2 separate regions of the Homo sapiens genome follow, and region 1 is linked to region 2. Evidence: fine-mapped expression QTL. A gene starts in region 2. The other region holds a variant in brackets. All regions are shown on one strand. Distances are from middle to middle. Region 1 overlaps TCF3 (transcription factor 3). Region 2 holds the start of TCF3 (transcription factor 3).

The links.
Region 1: its variant is fine-mapped to the expression of TCF3 in whole blood (INTERVAL, PIP 0.98).

Annotation. Positions count from the first base shown.
Region 1 is chr19:1,615,074-1,623,073 of GRCh38, forward strand. TCF3 (transcription factor 3) reads right to left here. Exons shown (of 19, transcript NM_003200.5): 9 at 7,240-7,342; 10 at 6,981-7,150; 11 at 6,765-6,897; 12 at 6,060-6,118; 13 at 5,895-5,973; 14 at 4,707-4,780; 15 at 4,243-4,401; 16 at 4,038-4,161; 17 at 613-748; 18 at 212-447. It also overlaps the pseudogene RNU6-1223P. Among named protein-coding and RNA genes, the nearest start is that of UQCR11, 14 kb to the left of the region's middle. The variant G/A (reference allele first, on the strand shown) is at 4,261.
Region 2 is chr19:1,648,985-1,657,435 of GRCh38, forward strand. It overlaps TCF3 (transcription factor 3), which reads right to left and starts at 3,631. Exons shown (of 19, transcript NM_003200.5): 1 at 3,316-3,631; 2 at 1,193-1,303. The coding sequence starts at 1,264. RefSeq lists enhancers at 1-159, 172-671, 4,090-4,139, 4,260-4,369 and silencers at 2,550-2,669, 2,650-2,872, 2,680-2,909, 3,000-3,079, 3,610-3,739 and 1 more.

The sequences.
Region 1 (8,000 bases), 34 kb before region 2:
ATGCTGAGGCAGGCAGGGAGAAGGGCTGGCAGTCAGGAGTGGACAGTCATGGCAATGCGGTCAGAGGGGTGAAGGGCACAGTCACTGCAAGGAGGCAACTGCTGCAGAGGGAGGGCTGGCTCCAGGAAGGCGGGCGGGGAAGGAGAACGAGGGCAGGAACACGAGGGAGGGTGGCGCTGCAGGGACGCTGGTGGCCCGCGCCCCCACTGACCTCGCACTTGCTGCTCCAAGTTCAGGATGACCGAGACAGCCTGGTGCAGGATGAGCAGTTTGGTCTGGGGCTTCTCGCTGTTGAGGTGCAGTTGGCACATGCGCCCCAGCTCCTTAAAGGCCTCGTTGATGTCACGGACCCGCAGCCGCTCCCGGGCGTTATTGGCCACCCGGCGCTCCTTCTCCCGCTCGGCCTTCTGCTCTGGGGGGAGAAGGTCGTCCTCGTCCTCGTCTGGGCTATGGGGAGGGCGCCGGGAGGGGGCCAGAGGGAGACAGTGAGGTTGGGGGAAGAGCGTGGGGCCCGCCGACGGCCTCCCAGTGTGGGTGCGGTGTGCGTGTGGCCTGTGCACATGTGCGTCCTGATGGGGTGAGGGTGGGGAGTGCCGAGGGGTGGGTTGGCACCTGGTCCGGGCCCGGGGGGCCTTCAGCTCCTTCTTCTCCTCCTCCGAGTGGTCAGCCGCTGACGTGTTCTCCTCGTCCTCCTTCTCCTCCCGCTTGATCTCGCTGGCGGCCGCCGTGGCACCTGCTCGCCCTAGCCCTGCAACAGGCCTAGGGTCAGGGGCCTGCGTCGGCCTCCAGGGCCAACTGACATATCTCTTTGTGCTCCTGTGGTGAGGGACTTGGGCTTTCCTGGAAAAACCAGGTCTTGGCCAAAAATAAAAACAAAAAACCAACAACCAGAACTGGATCCCTACCTCACGCCATGTGTAGCTACCAATGCCAGACAGATTAAGGACCACAAGATGAAAGGGAAACAGTTTTACCACCTTTGGAACAAAGTGTGTAGAAATTCTGCAGCAACTCAATGGCAGGAATCTACTAAGATGCTAAAAGAACACTCTTCTTTTTTGGTGAAAGTAAACTGTTTCAATCATTAACTTAAAAATATGGAACACTTCGGATGGGCACAGTGGCTCACACCAGCTCACACCTGTAATGCCAGCATTTTGGGAGGCCGAGGTGGGTGGATCACGAGGTCAGGAGATCAAGACCATCCTGGCTAACATGGTGAAACCCCATCTCTACTAAAAATACAAAAAATTAGCCAGCTGTGGTGGTGGGTACCTGTAATCCCAGCTACTTGGGAGGCTGAGGCAGGAGAATCACTTGAACCCAGGAGGCGGAGGTTGCAGTGAGCCAAGATTGCGCCACTGTACTCCAGCCTGGGTGACAAAGCAAGACTCCGTCTCAAAAAAAAAAAAAAGAATAAAACTTTGGAACACTTCAGGAATGTCCACGTCACCCTTGTGCAGATGCTATGCTAATCTTTATCATTCTCATTTTAGTCCAAGAGCTGTCCAAGCAAGTGCTCAAAGCGCTGCTTTTGAAAGAACACAGGCCGGGCACAGTGGCTGACTCACGCCTGTGATCCCAGCACTTTGGGAGGCTGAGGTGGAAGGGTCACTTGAGGCCAGGGGGTCATGGCTACCGTGAGCTGTGATCATGCCCCTGCACTCTGGTGTGACAGGGTGAGACCCTGTCTCAAAACAAAACAAGTAAAAAAGAAAAAACAAAAATCAGTAAGCTGGACTATATCAGAATTGAGAGTTCCTGATCAGCAAAGATACCAGGAAAAGAAAAGCATTTGCCAAAGAATAGAAGACACCCACCACAGATGTAGCCAACCAGGAGGTGATCTCCCACAATCAATGGGAAAGGACAAAAAGAAAGTAACTCAGTAGAAAAATAAGCAAGGTATCCAAAAAGGCATCTCACAGACAAGGAAACCACATGGCTAGAAACACGTGGAAGTCCGCTTCAGCACATCAAGAGATTAAGGAAATGCAAATTAGGGTGGCTTTGCGCTACCCTTTCATACCCAGTCAGCTAGCAAAGTTGAGGGACCTGAACAGTCAAAATCTTGCCTGTGGGAGGGCAACTTGGCTGCTTTGGAAAATAATTCATCAGCCTTTCCTCTGAATTGACAACAGGTGTATCACACCCTTGATCAGCAGGTTGGCAGGAAAGCGTGATGTTGGAATGACCTACAGCCCCACGCCCGGGCCAGGGCCAACGGCACACTCACAATGGGACCCCAGCCGCTCACACCACACATGTACCCCACACACAACATAAGCCAGCAAACCAGCGTGTAAAGAACACGCTAGTGGGACGCCGTGTTCATGAAGCTCAAGAACAATAATTGCAAAACATGTGGCTTAAGGGTACACAGTGCCCCAAATGAATGCGGCCACTCTGCATTCAGCAGGGCCTGGGCCACCCCCAAAACCCGGGCTTGGGGAGTCCAGGAATCAGTCAGGGCTCACATGGAGCAAACCAGCTGCCATCCCCTGAGACCCCCGTACCCTGAGGGGGAGCCTCAGAAATGCACCCGCTCCCCACAGTGAACTCTGCTCCAATCGGCCAACGCCAGCCACCAGGACCAGCCCAGGCCTCAGCACACGAAGTGAAGGACAGGAAGGAAACAGAGGGGAGCCTATGGGTGAAAGACTAAGCTTGGGGCTGCCCCTGGAAACTGCTGACCTGTGGGTCCGGACCCTTCTCTGGGGTGGGGCCGTCCTGGGCACTGCAGGGTGCTGAGCAGCATCCCTGGCCCCCACCCACTCCATGCCAGGAGCTCCCCTCAGCCCTGACAACTGTAGATGTCCCCAGACATCACCCAGTGTCCCCTGGGGGCAGAGCCGCTGCGGTGAGATGCCCTGGCCTAGGAGTGATAGAATCAAGGTACTTGGAAAGTCTGCCTGGAAAGCAGGCAGGATTCCTGGGCTGGTGGAAGGCACAGGGCCAGGACAGCGCCCACAATGACCCCACCTTCTCCTGGGCCTCTCATGGGTGTCTGAGACACTCAACAATCCCCAGGCCCAGGTCCAGATTTGTCCCCAACCTTTTCCTTTGTCCCCTTCCTTACGGAGTTCCCAGCCCCAGTGTCACCCACAGCTCGGGCCAGAAATCCCAGAGCCACCCTGCCTTCTCTCACCCTCAAGTCCTGTCCATCACAAATCCTGTGGGCCCCGCCTTCAGGAGATGCAGGGCCCACCCACTGCTCACCCCTCCAAGGCCCCTGGACCAGCCCTGTGGCCTCTGCCTTGGTCTCCCGGTGCCACTCATAGTCTGTCCTCCAAGCAGCCACCAGAGGGTATCTGTGAGCACCTGGGTCAGGTCCCATCCCTCCTCAGCCCTCCACGGCTGCCACCTTTCTCATGGCCAAATCCCAAGTCCTCCCCGCAGCCCACAAGGCCCCGCATGACCTGCCCTGCCCCGCCCTCCCCCCTTCCCTCTCTCCCTCTCCTCACTCTGCTCCAACCCCACGGGTCTCCTGGCTGTTCCTCCCAGGTGCAGTCCAGCCCCAGGGCCTTTGCCTGGGCTGCGCCCTCTGCCTGAAACCCTCCTCCTCCAGGTACTTGCCTACTCTTGCCTCCTCCCAGATGCTGCCCAAACACCACCTTGTGGCCTCATGGGCCACCATCTTCAAAGCCATACAAAACCCCCAACCCACCGCAGCCACTTCGTTCCTTCTCCCTGGCACCTGTACTGTGCAGCGAGCTCCTGGTCTGTCTCCCCTGAGGCAGAGGCATCCTGCTGCACCCCTCGCCCCTTCCCCAGTGCTGAGCGCTGCCAGGCACACAGCGTCTGGGAGCAGGCGAATGAAGAGGCAGCCCAGAGCTGTCCACCTCACACGCCCAGGGCCAACGCCGGCCCCGCCGGTCTTACCCACCCTCCTGAAGTTGCTGACTGGGGCGCCCATGTCACCAGGTGCCCCCACGGTGACACCTGCCCTGGGCTCCCACCCTGACCCCCACCACTAGAGTGCCTCAGTTTCCCCAACTGGAACCAGGAGTCGGACAGTCCCAAGCTCAAGGGCTTACCACTGTAGGAGTCGGGAGGCCGAGACAGGTCAGGGAGGGTGCCTGGCTGGCTGGGGAGGGCCGCGTGGTTGTGCATGAGGCTGGTGCTGCCTGCGAGGCCGTCCTCGGGGTGGCTGCCTCCAACCTGCAGGCGTGGGGAGACGGGTGCATCAGGGGGAGCCGGGTCCCCGCCCACTGCCCAGCTCCACCCTCGCCCAGCGCTCACCAGGCCTGCGTGCCGCCC[G/A]CCCAGTGACATGGGGCCGGTGAAACCTGAGGCCAGCGCCCCGTGGCCAGGCAGCAGCGTGTGCATGTCGCCGGCTGTGCCCACGGCGTGGCTGCGGAGCACGTGGATGGCCTCGTCCAGGTGGTCTTCTATCTTACTCTGCTGCAGGGTGGGGGGATGGGTGGTGAGGGGCCCAAGCCGAGGGACCCCACAGGCCTCCATTCATGTCCCTTCCGCATGCAAGTGGCCGGTGGTCCCATCTTCCCCTTCCCCAGGAAGCTGCATATGCCAGGCATCTGGCGCCCGGGAGCACACACAAAATGTGTGTGCCTTGGCGGCCACGAGGCCTCAATAACAGCTTGGGGCTTATTTACAAGAAACTAACAAAAAGGTTTCTCCTTCTCAAGGAGCGTCTGTCCTGCAAATTCTGTCGGGGAAGGGTGGGGTGGGGCGGGGCAGGCACTCACCAGGCCGTGGAGACCCCCGTCGTAGCTGGGCGATAAGGCACCGGGGGCTCCTGCTCGAGGCCACTGTGACGTTCCTGGAAGGGAGTGGGGACGTGAATGGGGTGCGAGGGGCGGGGTGTGAGCATGGCCTGATGCCCATGGGGAGGGATTCATGAACCACCCCGCCTGTCCAGCCTCCGGTGATGCCCAAGATGGCCATTCCGGGGCACCCCACACTGATGCAAAGCTGCTCGGCCCCGCCAGGCAGGGATGCTGGGTGCCCAGTGGGTACTGCCATTCCTATCTCTGAGCCTCAGTTTCCCCATCTACAAAATCCAACTCCCCACTCAGAGGATAAAGTGGCTCGGCAGCACACAGTAGGGGGCTCCTCCCCATGCTGCCCCACCCTGGCTGACCCACGCTGGGCTCCAGCAGCAGGCAAGAAAGTGGCAAGCTCCAGGTGGGACCAGACAGGCCGAGGTGAAGTGAGGGTTCCTGGCGCTTCCCATGGGGGCAGAGATGAGGACTCACGGGTGTTTTTAAACACCCAGACCTTCTGGAAACCTCCAGTTCTCACTCCCCCTCCTCCTGTACCTGCCCCCGACCCCCTGCGGATAAGCAAGCACGTCCTCACAGGGATAGGAGGGTCTGCCCTCCCATGCCGGAGCACCGCACAGGGTAAACAGTCAGTACCTAATAAATACCCAGTGGGTGAGCAAATGGCAACACGCACACATTCTAGAGTCCAGGCCACAGCCCTGGCGATGCTGGCCCCATCGGACCTGGGAGCTGCTAGGCACGCCAATGTCCCCTCATGTTCACGCAGTGTGAACTGCCAGGTCCTGCCTCCTGGCTTTGCCTGTGCTGTGACCTAACCTGGACGCCACCTCCCAGCCCTCCCTCACTGCCTGGTTATGTGCTATAGCCTTGGAGGGCTGGCTTGGAGGCTGCCTCCACTAGGCAGCTTTCCTGGATTGCCCAGTGGAACACAAGCCCATGGGGGACTCCCTTCCACCGTCGGTTCCTGACCAGCGATGCCACGGGCCCTTGGGGGCCATCTGCTCCCTCCCCGCTGCCTGCCTATCCCAGCAAGGTGCAGACACCAGAACCAGCCTCCCCTCCCCCGCAAAGCCTTCACAGACCTCAGCCTCCCCTCCCCCCAAACCCTCACAGACCTCAGCCTCCCCTCCCCCCAAAACCCTCACAGACCTGCCAGGCCCTGGGGGGAGCCCACGGGGGTAGAAGGGCTGGACGAGAAGTTATTGCTTGAGTGATCCGGGGAGTAGATCTGCGAGGAGGACCAGGAGAGATGGGCGGTCAGGGGCCGGCCTCTCAGGTCACTTGCCTGGCCACCCCCCATGCCCCACGCCTCACCGAGGCCAGTGCTTTGCCGAGGGCATCCCCGGAGCTGCCAGCTGTGGTCCCTCGGGAGCCTGTGGGTGAAGAGAGGTGAGGCCCACGCAGCCCGGCCTGGGTGCTGCCGCCGACGGCAAGCTCTCCTGCGTTCTGCCGTCCTGCACAGACACTGCTGCGCCAGGGAGAGCAGCCTGACTCGGGTCCGGTTTCTGTCTGACCCCCTGAAACCAGCCTCTGCAGGGGTTGAGGCACTGGGGACAGGCCACTGGCAGGGGACCCTGGGTGGGTGAGTCCCCTTCTGGGCCTGGGTGGGTGAGTCCCCCTCTGGGCCTGGATGGGTGAGTCCCTCTCTGGGCCTGGGTAACTGAGTCCCTCTCTGGGCCTGGGTGGGTGAGTCCCTCTCTGGGCCTGGGTGGGTGAGTCCCTCTCTGACCCTGGGTGGGTGAGTCCCTCTCTGACCCTGGGTGGGTGAGTCCCTCTCTGAGCCTCTTTCCCAGCTGTAAGGCGGGAAAGCCGCTCCTCAAAGATCTGTTTCCAGACATCCCAAGCCCAACGCACGTGGCAGGCCCTGCAGACAGCGGACAATGAGAACTGACAACAACCCGCTCTCAGGGCCAGCAGACGCGCCTGCGCCTCCCGTGGAGTCCTCGCCACCCCCCACCCAGACCCTGCCTGGAGCCCAGTGTCCCCTCGGAGAGGCCGCATCCCAGGGAGGGGCCATACCCAGGAGGCTGTCGGCCCCGCTGACAGGCGGCGTGTGGCTGGAGACGCCGCCGTACGTGGCTCCGGGGGCTGAGGAGAAGGAGGATGCAGATGGGAGCCCACCGTTCACCTCTGCTCCATGCAGCTGGTAGCCCTGGGGGGTCAGGCAGGAGGAGGGTGGGTTAGATGGGCACTGCCACCCTCCGCCCACCCCCTGCCCCCTGCCCTGGGTCCTACCATACGCTCGTGCTGGTGCAGGCCACCAAACGTGCTGCTGCTTCCACTGCTGCCCACCGGGCCGCTACCGGGCGGGAGGGGCAGCGGGGATGAGCCCCCACCCAGCATGGGCCCGAAGCCCGCCTGGCCCGGGGGACTCCAGAGCTCGGCTGAGGGGTGCAGGCTGCCATCTGTGGAGGGGAGCTGGTAAGGTGGGGGCCGAGTGGGGAACCCCAGCCCTGCCCTACCGTCCCTGGCGAGCCCCCGCCCTGCCATGTACCTGCCACGTAGAAGGGGGCGGGATAGGTGCTGCTGGGGGTCTTGGCGGACGGGTAGGCGGTGGCATCCCTGCCGTAGTCCTCACCTGAGCTGGGTGGGTACACCTGCGGGCGGGTGGGCGGTGGGGGGTGCAGTCAGGACGGAGGGACCACGATCAGCCCATGCACCTTGCCGGCCTCCTGTCCCCTCCTGGTAGCACATCTACCACCCCGTTTCCCTTCCCTGTAAAGCCACCCCCCTTTAGGTAAATCCCAGCCCCTGGCCAAGTTTGAGGTTCTTATGATGTCCTGGTCTCTCTCTCCTACTCCTTTTCCAGCCCCCACCTCCCGCCTCCCTGAACTTCTGACCTTTGTACTTGAGGACTTGGATCTGGCTCTGCCTACTAAACCTTTTTCCTCCTTAATCCAGAAAACTCCTATCGACCCATCAAAACCCCAGCTCCAACACCCCATCCCATCCTTCTCCCTTGTTCCCCAGCTGGAATCAATCTTCCAGTGCTGAGCTTCCCTTGGTCCCAGAGCAACATTCGTCCTTCACTAAAGTAACAGGAAGAGGGGTCTGTGAGTAGCGCCAGCTCTGACTGGTTGGCACTGCCTGGACTGTGGGGCTGGGGCCTGTTGGTAACGTCTGCTGCTGTGCTGGAGCGGGAAGTATGCTGGGTGGGCCTGATGTTGTAATAAACTGGGGGGCGGTTTCAGGGCAGAGAAAGTGCACCCTGGGGAAGGAGGGGAGTGAGTGATACTGTTGGGAGCAGAGCCTGAC
Region 2 (8,451 bases):
GGGCTCCGGCATTCCAGCCTCACTGCACCTGCCTGAACTGTGTGACTTCTGAGGACCAGCACCCTCTGAGCCTCCGTTCACCCAGGTGGAGAATGGGCCGTACAGGGACAGATCCAACCACCTAAGACTCTGAAGAAGCCGCCCCGCCCTCCCCACCGGGCCTGCCTGCTCCGCAGTGATAACCGTGGCAGTCACAATGGTGGCGCTGCTGTCTGCTCGGTGGCCCATGAATTCCCACTCAATCCCAATCCAGCCTCCTCCTGGCCCAAGCTCGGCTTCTGGCAGCTTAACTTCAGCACCCACGTGTGACTAATTAACCACACAGTCAGTTTCATGCCCGCATCCTCTGCCCACCAGGGGAGTCCCGTATGGGGCAGGTTGTGTCTGCCCTGTTCACGGAGGGTGGTCCGCTCAGCACTGGGCACCCCCTCCTTTACTTCTTTGAGGAAGGATCTTACTCTATCGCCCAGGAAGGAGTGCAGTGGCGCAATCACAGCTCACTGCAGCCTCAACCTCCAGGGCTCAAGTGATTCTCCTTGCCTCAGCCTCCCAAGTAGCTGGGACCACAGGCATCTACCACCACTCCTAGCTAATTTTTTGAGTTTTGTTTTGTCTTTTTGAGAAATGGGGCCTCACTATGTTTCCTGGGCTGGACTTGGAACTCCTGGCCTCAAGCGATCCTCCCGCCTCAGCCTCCCAAAGTGCTGGAATGACAGGTGGGAACCACTGTGCCCAGCCCCCCTCCCATTTACTGAAACAGGGTCTCCAGGGTCTCACTGTCAACCAGACTGGAGTGCAGTGATCTTTTACTTACTTTTAATTTTTGTATCTACAATGAGGTAAGCGACCCTGATCAGGCCCATTTTACAGATCAGAAGATCAAGGCCGCATTTTGCTTACCCAGCCAAGCTGGGGGCCCAGGACCATGCCCCTGAGGACTCAGTTTCCCCATCTGTAAAGCAGTAGGCTGTAGAATGCTGCGTCCGGGCAAAAGCCCCATAGCACACGTGCTGCCGTGCGCTGTCAGCCTCCTGCCAGAGAGCGGCCCACTCCCCCAGCCCCACCGGGGCCTCCCATCCAAACAGCTGAGGCTCCATCGCTGAAGTATTCAGCAAACACTCTCCCCTGAAAACCTTCCCGTGAACTGTGGAGGCAAAGGGGTGTCGGGGGCTGGGCGGGGGTCCTGGCTCACCATGCTGAAGTCCAGGAGGTCACTGAGCTCCTTGTCTGTGCCCACAGGCGCCATCCTCTGCGGCTGGTTCATTCTCCTGGGGCCAGGGCGGGCACCTCAGGCCTGGAAACCCTGCTTGGTGGATGTGGGGACAGATGGACAGGGAGAAACAGGGAGGGGAGAAGAGTTGTGAGTGGTCAAAGCACAGAGTGCTAAAAGCCACCTAAAAAACCCTCAACCGCCCTGGGGTCTGAGTTCCAGCAGAGCCCTGGGGGCACGGGGAGCCCTGGGAGCAGGCGCAGGGAAGCTGGAATTCCAGAGTCTAGGTCCCTGCAGAGTCCTCCCCAGAGACCACAGGGAGTCTGAAAAATGGGGGGAGGGTGTGCAAATATAAACTCCCTAACTCCCCCAGGGAACACCAGGGCATCAAGTTGCCAAGTTTAAACTGCACGCAGGGCAGCCAGAACCTCTCCTTTCTCCAACTCTCTCATTTCCAACCAACCCCGGGCTTCCTCTGAGGCCCCCTACCCCCGGGAAAGGGAGGAACAGCCCGATCCTACCCCGCCCCGAGGGAAATTTGGTGATTCCCCCCTCCCCCAGCAGATGGCACAGCCCGTTGAAGACCAGGTCGCCCCCAAATTCAACATGAAGGAAATCCACAAGTCAGAAAACCACGAAACTCTTTTACAAGCTTCAAGACTTAAAGTGCCGGGGGTGGGGGGGACGCGCATCCTATGCAGGGACCAGCAAAGCTTTCCTCCACCCTCAATCTCCCTCCCCCCAAGAAAACCCCAACAGTATTCAGGAAAGAAAAAAAAAACAGCCCTAGATTGCTTTACTGTCGCGATGTATCCGGGAATTATTTTTAAGCAAAACTTTGACAACATCCCTTGCCTGCCCTCCATGAGCGGGGAGAGCGTCTCAAGACCAGGGTGCTCCCGCGTGGTCCCAGGGGGCTCCATTCTAAGATGGGGGATGGGGGATCCACCTGCCAAGACCCATTCCACCCCCAGAAAAAGGTACAGAGAAAAATTTCCATTCCAAAGAAATGCACTCCAGGCCCCTCCAGTCTCGACTTTCCCCAGGGGTCCCCAGGTGGGGACGGGGGCAGCCCGGGAGACACCTCCGAGGCTGGGGGTGGGGAGGAGCCTCCGAGGTCGAGGGAGACCCAACTTCAGAAGCAGAGAAATCCCCTCTTTGTCTGCCAACTGGAGGCCGGGTGTGAAGCGGGCGCCCCAGCGCAGCCCCTCCCCCGCTCAGTTTTTTTCTTTTTTGGAGGGCGTGTGAAACTGACTTTTTTTGAGGACTACGAAACCGCACTTTTTTGTGGGGTAGCTGAAACCGATTTTAAGACAGACTTAGTTGGGGGGGTGGCGAGCTAAAACGGGCATTCTACGGGAGCTGGAAGACTTCTGGGGCGTCCCAAGGACTTTGAGAGACTTGGAGAATGTTTGAAGCCACTTTGCACGGCGCCGAAGGCGGGGGGCGCGCTGGAACGCCTTTTTCCCGGGGGGAGGCGGCCCGGGAAGCCGGACCCCCCTCCCCCCGCAGCCGGTGCAGGCGGTGCGGCCCGGGAGCCTTTGAAGCTCGCAGCGCGGCCGCCGCCTCGCCCCGCATTAACGCGGAGCAGATGTTACCCGCGCGCCCCCCCCCGGCCCGCCCGGCCCCGACCAGCGCCTGCAGCGCGCGGCACCTTCCCCGCGCAGACAAAAGGACGTCCCTCCCGCGCGCTCCCCACCCCAAACTCCGGCGCCCGGGCCGGGCCCCCCTCTACCCGAGAAAGGGGGCGCCCCGGGGTCCCCGTGCGCCCGGGCTGGGGGGGACGGTCCTCGCGCCTAAGTTGCACAGCCCGTCCGGCGCCCCCCGCGCCCCCGCCCGGGGCTGCTTAAAGTTTCCCGAAGTGCCCGGCCCGACGGGGGCGACGCGGGCCTGGCGAGCTCCGGGCTCCTCCACGTCGCCGCCCCCCCGGCGCCGCGCGAAGTTGGAGAACAATGACTCCCGGGCCGCGGGGCGCCCCCCGACACCGCCCCCGCCCCAACTTCCTCCGCGCCCCCCCCCAACAAGCGCGCGCGGGGCGGGCCGGGGTTCCCTGGGCACAAAGCACGGGGGTACCGGGCGCGCCCCCCGCCCCCCGCCGGGCTCACCTGCTGGGCGCGGCCGGGCACGCGGCGCGTGGGGGGGGGCGGCGGCATGAAGCGGGGGGGCCCCCCCCCGGACAAAGGTGCGTCGCGGCCGGGCCCCCGAGGGTCGCGCGTGGGCGGCGGCGGCGGCGCGCGTGGCCCGGGCCCCTCCCACCCCCGCGTGGCCCGTCCCGCGGGGCCCGTGCGCGCGGCCGGCCGGGGCGCCCCTGGGGCAGCGGCGTGCGCGGTGCCCGCGGTGCCCGCCGCCGCGTCGGCTCCGGCCCGCTACGCCCGCAGCCGCCGCCGCTGCCTCATCTTCCTGCGGCGGGAGACATGTTCCGCCCCCCGCCCGCGCCGCCCCGCCCCGCCCCGTGCAGGCCCCGCCCCTGCCCCGCCCCCGAGTGCCCCGCCCGGCGGCCCACGCGGATCCCTCCGCCACCTCCGGGCGGCTCGGGCCCGAACGCCCTAGCTCGGCCTCTCGAGCACCCTCGTGAGGACCCCGAATCCCGTGAGGTCCAGAGCCTGGGAGCGGGGACGCGCAGAGGAGGCGGTCGGGCCACGGCGCGGGGAGAAATCACGGACTATCCCCGTCCGCGGAAGCACACACGAGCTGTGCGCTTAGTCCATGACGCAAGCGAGTAAGGCCCGTGAGATTGAAAGCTAAGGCAGAGCAGTCTGGTCAATCGGAAGCCGCGAAAGTCTGATGGGCGGGGATCCTAGCCATTCGTGGTGAGGCCCCGCCTCCTTTCTTCTCGGCCCCGCCCCTCAGCAGAGGCGGGACTCTGCGAGCGAGAGGCCGCGAGAGGCGGCCGGGGTGGGTCCTGGAGTTTTGTTCTCAGGTTGGCGTGGCCGCCCGCGCGGAGCCTTCTGCTTGGTTATATTTGCGTTCCTCGGGCCGGCCCCGCGTGCTGAGTGGTGCGAGCGGGTATCACGGCCCCGAGGGGGCTACGTCAGACCCATTTTCCCGGCGGGAAAACCGACTCTGGCTCCGGCTCTGGGTCAGAGAGCCCCGCGGGGAGTCTCAGCGGTGCCTTTGCCGACTTGAGTCTCCGTCTCGGCATCTGTGAATTTGGACCTGACTTTGGACAGAACTCAGGCCAGATCTGGCTTCCTGATTCTTAGTAGTCCGTGTCTACATTTTAGTAAAAAGTGACCCCGCCTAGGATCGGGCGCCGTGGCTCCTGCCTGTGATCCCAGCGCTTTGAAGGAGGCCGAGGCGGGAAGATCGCTTGAGGCCAGGAGTTCGAGAACAGCCTGAACAACATAGTGAAACCCCCCCCACCCACACCCGTCTCTAAAAATATTTAAAATAATTTAAAATAATAATTTAAAAAGTTGACCGGACGCGGTGGCCCACGCTTGTATTCCCAGCACTTTGGGAGGCCAAGGCGGGCAGATCACCTGAAGTCAGGAGTTCGAGACCTCTCTGGCCAACACGGTGAAACCCCATCTCTACTAAAAATACAAAAATTAGCCGGGCATGGTGGCGGGCACCTGTAGTCCTAGCTACTCGGGAGGCTGAGGCAGCAGAATCGCTTTCACCCGAAAGGCGGAGGTTGCAATGAGCCGAGAGCACGCCATTGTACTCCAGCCTGGGCAACAAGGACGAAACTCCGTCTCAAAATAAATAAATAAATAAGTAAAATAAAATAAAAATACAAAAATTAGCTGGGCGTGGTGGCATACACCTATAATCTCAGCTACTCGGGAAGCTGAGGCAGGAGAATCGCTTAAACCCAGGAGGCAGAGGTTGCAGTGAGCAGAGATCGCAGCACTGCACTCCAGGCTGGGCGACAGAACGAGGCTCCGTCTCAAAAAAAAAAGTAAAATAACTAAACAAATAAATGAAAATAACACAATCTCCCAGGGCTCCCTGGGGCCCCAAAGGGAAATTTACACTCCACTCCCAGCCTGGGAAGATGCCACCATCTCGCTGGCCCGCTTGGCTCCAGCCATCCTGCCCTCTGGATGGTCCAGAACTTGCTAAGCTCATCCCCACCCCGGGCCTCTACGTTTGCTTTGTCCTCTACCTGGGAGGCTTTTCCCACCCCTATCTGGAGCCCCTGAGTCATCACAGTTCAATGCTGCACCTATGCCAGGCCGGCGGGGAGGCGGGGCCACAGGGGCCCCCCACCAAAGCCACAAGCCCCTCCTGCTATACACCCAAACTGGGCTGTCCACAGTCCGACCCTCCGTGCCCAGAGAGTTCCACGTGCCGCAGGTCTGGGGAGAGGGCTGTGGGTCCCAGGGTCTGTGCTGCAAATCCCTCATCCCTCTCCACCTCACTGTGACCTCAGGCAAGTTCGTGCTACTCTCCGGGCCTCGGTTTCTCCATCTGGACAGTGGAAGGGGGGAGTCTGGCACACAGTAGGTGCTCACAGCTGATGCCTGCCTTCCTCAGCCGCCCCCCACCCCCGCAGAGGCCTCTCCGGAGCCAGGGTCTCCAAGCAGCTCCAATCCCACCCCAGCCTCCTCAGCCCCCGGCCCTTCCTTGTGGCCCAGCCCTGACCCCATGGGTCTGAGGGTGTCTGTGGCCGGGTCTGGCTCTCCCCATTCCAGTGTAGGGAGCTCACTGTGGGCCACTCCCCACCCACACTCAGGGTCCAAGCCATAGTGTGGCAGCCGGAGTCCTCCCGAGGAGCCCTTCAGTTTCACCCACGGAAGGGAAGCAACCATCCAATCACGGACTTCTTCTTCTTCTTCTTCTTCTTCTTCTTCTTCTTATTATTATTATTATTATTTTGAGAAAGAGTCTCGCTCTGTTGCCCAGGCTGGAGTGCAGTGGTGAGATCACAGCTCACTGCAGCCTTGACCTCCTGGGCTCAAACGATCCTCCCGCCTCAGTTTCCCGAGTAGCTGGGACCACAGGCACGCGCCACCACACCCAGCTAATTTTGTATTTTTTGTAGAGACGGGGTTCTCCCTATGTTGCCCAGGCTGGTCTTGAACTCCTAGGCACAAGTGATCCTCCCGCCTTGGCTTCCCAGAGTGCTGGGATTACAGGCGTGTGCCACTGCGCCGTACAAGACTATTCAATTATCGGGCACTGACAGCGAACGGGGCCTTGTGCCGCGCATCGTAGCACTGTGGACAGTGATGGACTCAGTCCCTGCTGTCCCGGCAGGATGACCCATGAGGGACCCCTTGTCTAGTCCTGAATGTGGCTCTTTCCTGTGAGGTCCTCCTGCCTGTGTGGTTCCACGTATCGTACAGATGAGGAAACTGAGACTAGGGGTCTCCTCCCTGGGCCCCAGGGCACCCTGGGGCTCGCGCCTGCCAGGAGGTTCCGCTGGTAACCACAAGCCACCATTGTTTTCCCCAAGGAGGTCAGTCCTGGGGCTGAGTCACTGGGTGGAGCAGCCCGTGGGGGCCCCCCACTTGGCCACCACCTCTGCCCAGCCCCGAGGCCTGGGTGCTCCCTCCAGGGCCCTGGTACGGGGACAGGCAGCAAGCTATCCTCCTGACTGTGGCCTTTGTTTTGCTCTGGGGCCGGGCAGGAGGAGGAGCAGGGCCTCTGCACCTGCCGCCTGTTCCCTCCACACCTACTGTGTGCGCCCCCGCCAACATGAACCACGTATGTCAGAAAAACTGAGGCCAAGGACAACTTCCCACTAGGGAGACACAGAAGCGAGGGGGGCGAGGGGCGGCGATGGCGAGGTTTCCAGAGACAGACGCAGTAGGTGTGCAGGCCACAGCTGTCCGCAGAGAGACTGGGCTTGGATTAGGACTTCGGGGCCACCCTCCAGATTTCTGTTTCCATTTGTCCCTAAAGTGGGCACCTTTGACTTCTCCCAGGGTATGAACACACTCCCCCAACCCCCAGCGCCCTCCAGCAGGGGCGGAGAAGGGAGTGGCGGCCCAGCACTTATCACCCACGTCAGGCCCTGGGACAAACCTCGCTCCGGCGTCCACTGAGCACGGGCAGCTGGGGCGATCGGTGTCGCCTCCCAAAGTGGGGGCTTCCTGCTCGAGCTCAGACCTCCAGTGAGGGGCCTGATCCCAACACGACCAGATCAGGACCACCCCACAGAGCCCTGGGCTGGGACTCGGCCAGGGTAGGGCCCATTCCCTTATTCTCCACAACTTCGTTTTTATTTTATTTTAGCAGAGATGGGGTGAGGTGGAAGGATCGCTTGAGCCCAGGAGTTTGAGACCAGACTGGACAACACAGCAAGACCCCATCTCTTAAAAAAAAATTTTTTTTTTTAGATGAAATCTCACTCTGTCGTCCAGGCTGGAGGGCAGTGGTGCCAGCTCAGCTCACTACAACCTCCACCTCCTGGGGTCAAGCGATTCTCCTGCCTCAGCCTCCTGAGTAGCTGGGATTATAGGTGCCCACTGCCACGCCTGGCTAATTTTTGTATTTTTTTATAGAGACGGGGTTTCACCCTGTCGCCCAGGCTGGTCTAGAACTCCTGGCCTCAAGCGATCTTCCTGCCTTGGCCTACCCAAAGTGATGGGCTTACCAGCATGAGCCACCACACCCGGCCCCATTCTTCCTGCCTTCTGGGAGGAGGCGTCTCCAGGCTTGCTGGTTGGACCTGGGCAGGGAAGCCTCCTGAGATTGGGAGTGCTAGGGGCTTATGATTGTTCTCCCCTAGCGGAGGGAGGAGATTCTGGTGTGAAATGGAGCAGTGGGGACACACTCCAGTTCCTGGGGTCTGATCACAAGGGTTCCTGACTCCTCGGGCACTTCCAGCTATGAGGACACCAAGGAAGGGAAGAGGCTTGTCGGTGATCAGACCCCTACCCCTCCACCCAGACTTATGGGAGCCAGAGGGCCAGGAGAGCTGGGCAGGAGGCTCTGAGGTTGACGGGAATGGGAACACAGCCTCACACCTCCTGCTGTAGGGCATTCAGGGGAAGAAGGACCATCTCCCACAGGGAGTGGGTCCCCTGGGGCAGTGACTCTTGGGCTATGACCTCAAGATGCATGCGGTCGACAGGCAGAGAGCGGATACCATGCCAGGCAGGGGAAGCTGAGGGACAAAGGTACTGAGGTGGGAGGGGGTGTGGGGTGTTCAAGGAACGGGGCCTGTGAGGCTGGAGCCCAGAGAAGACCAGAGAAGAGGAGCCAAGATCAGAGAGAGGGGCAGGGCCTCCTATGCCACAGGGAGGAATTGGGTCTTCATGGTGAGAGGACTAGGGAACCATGGTGGG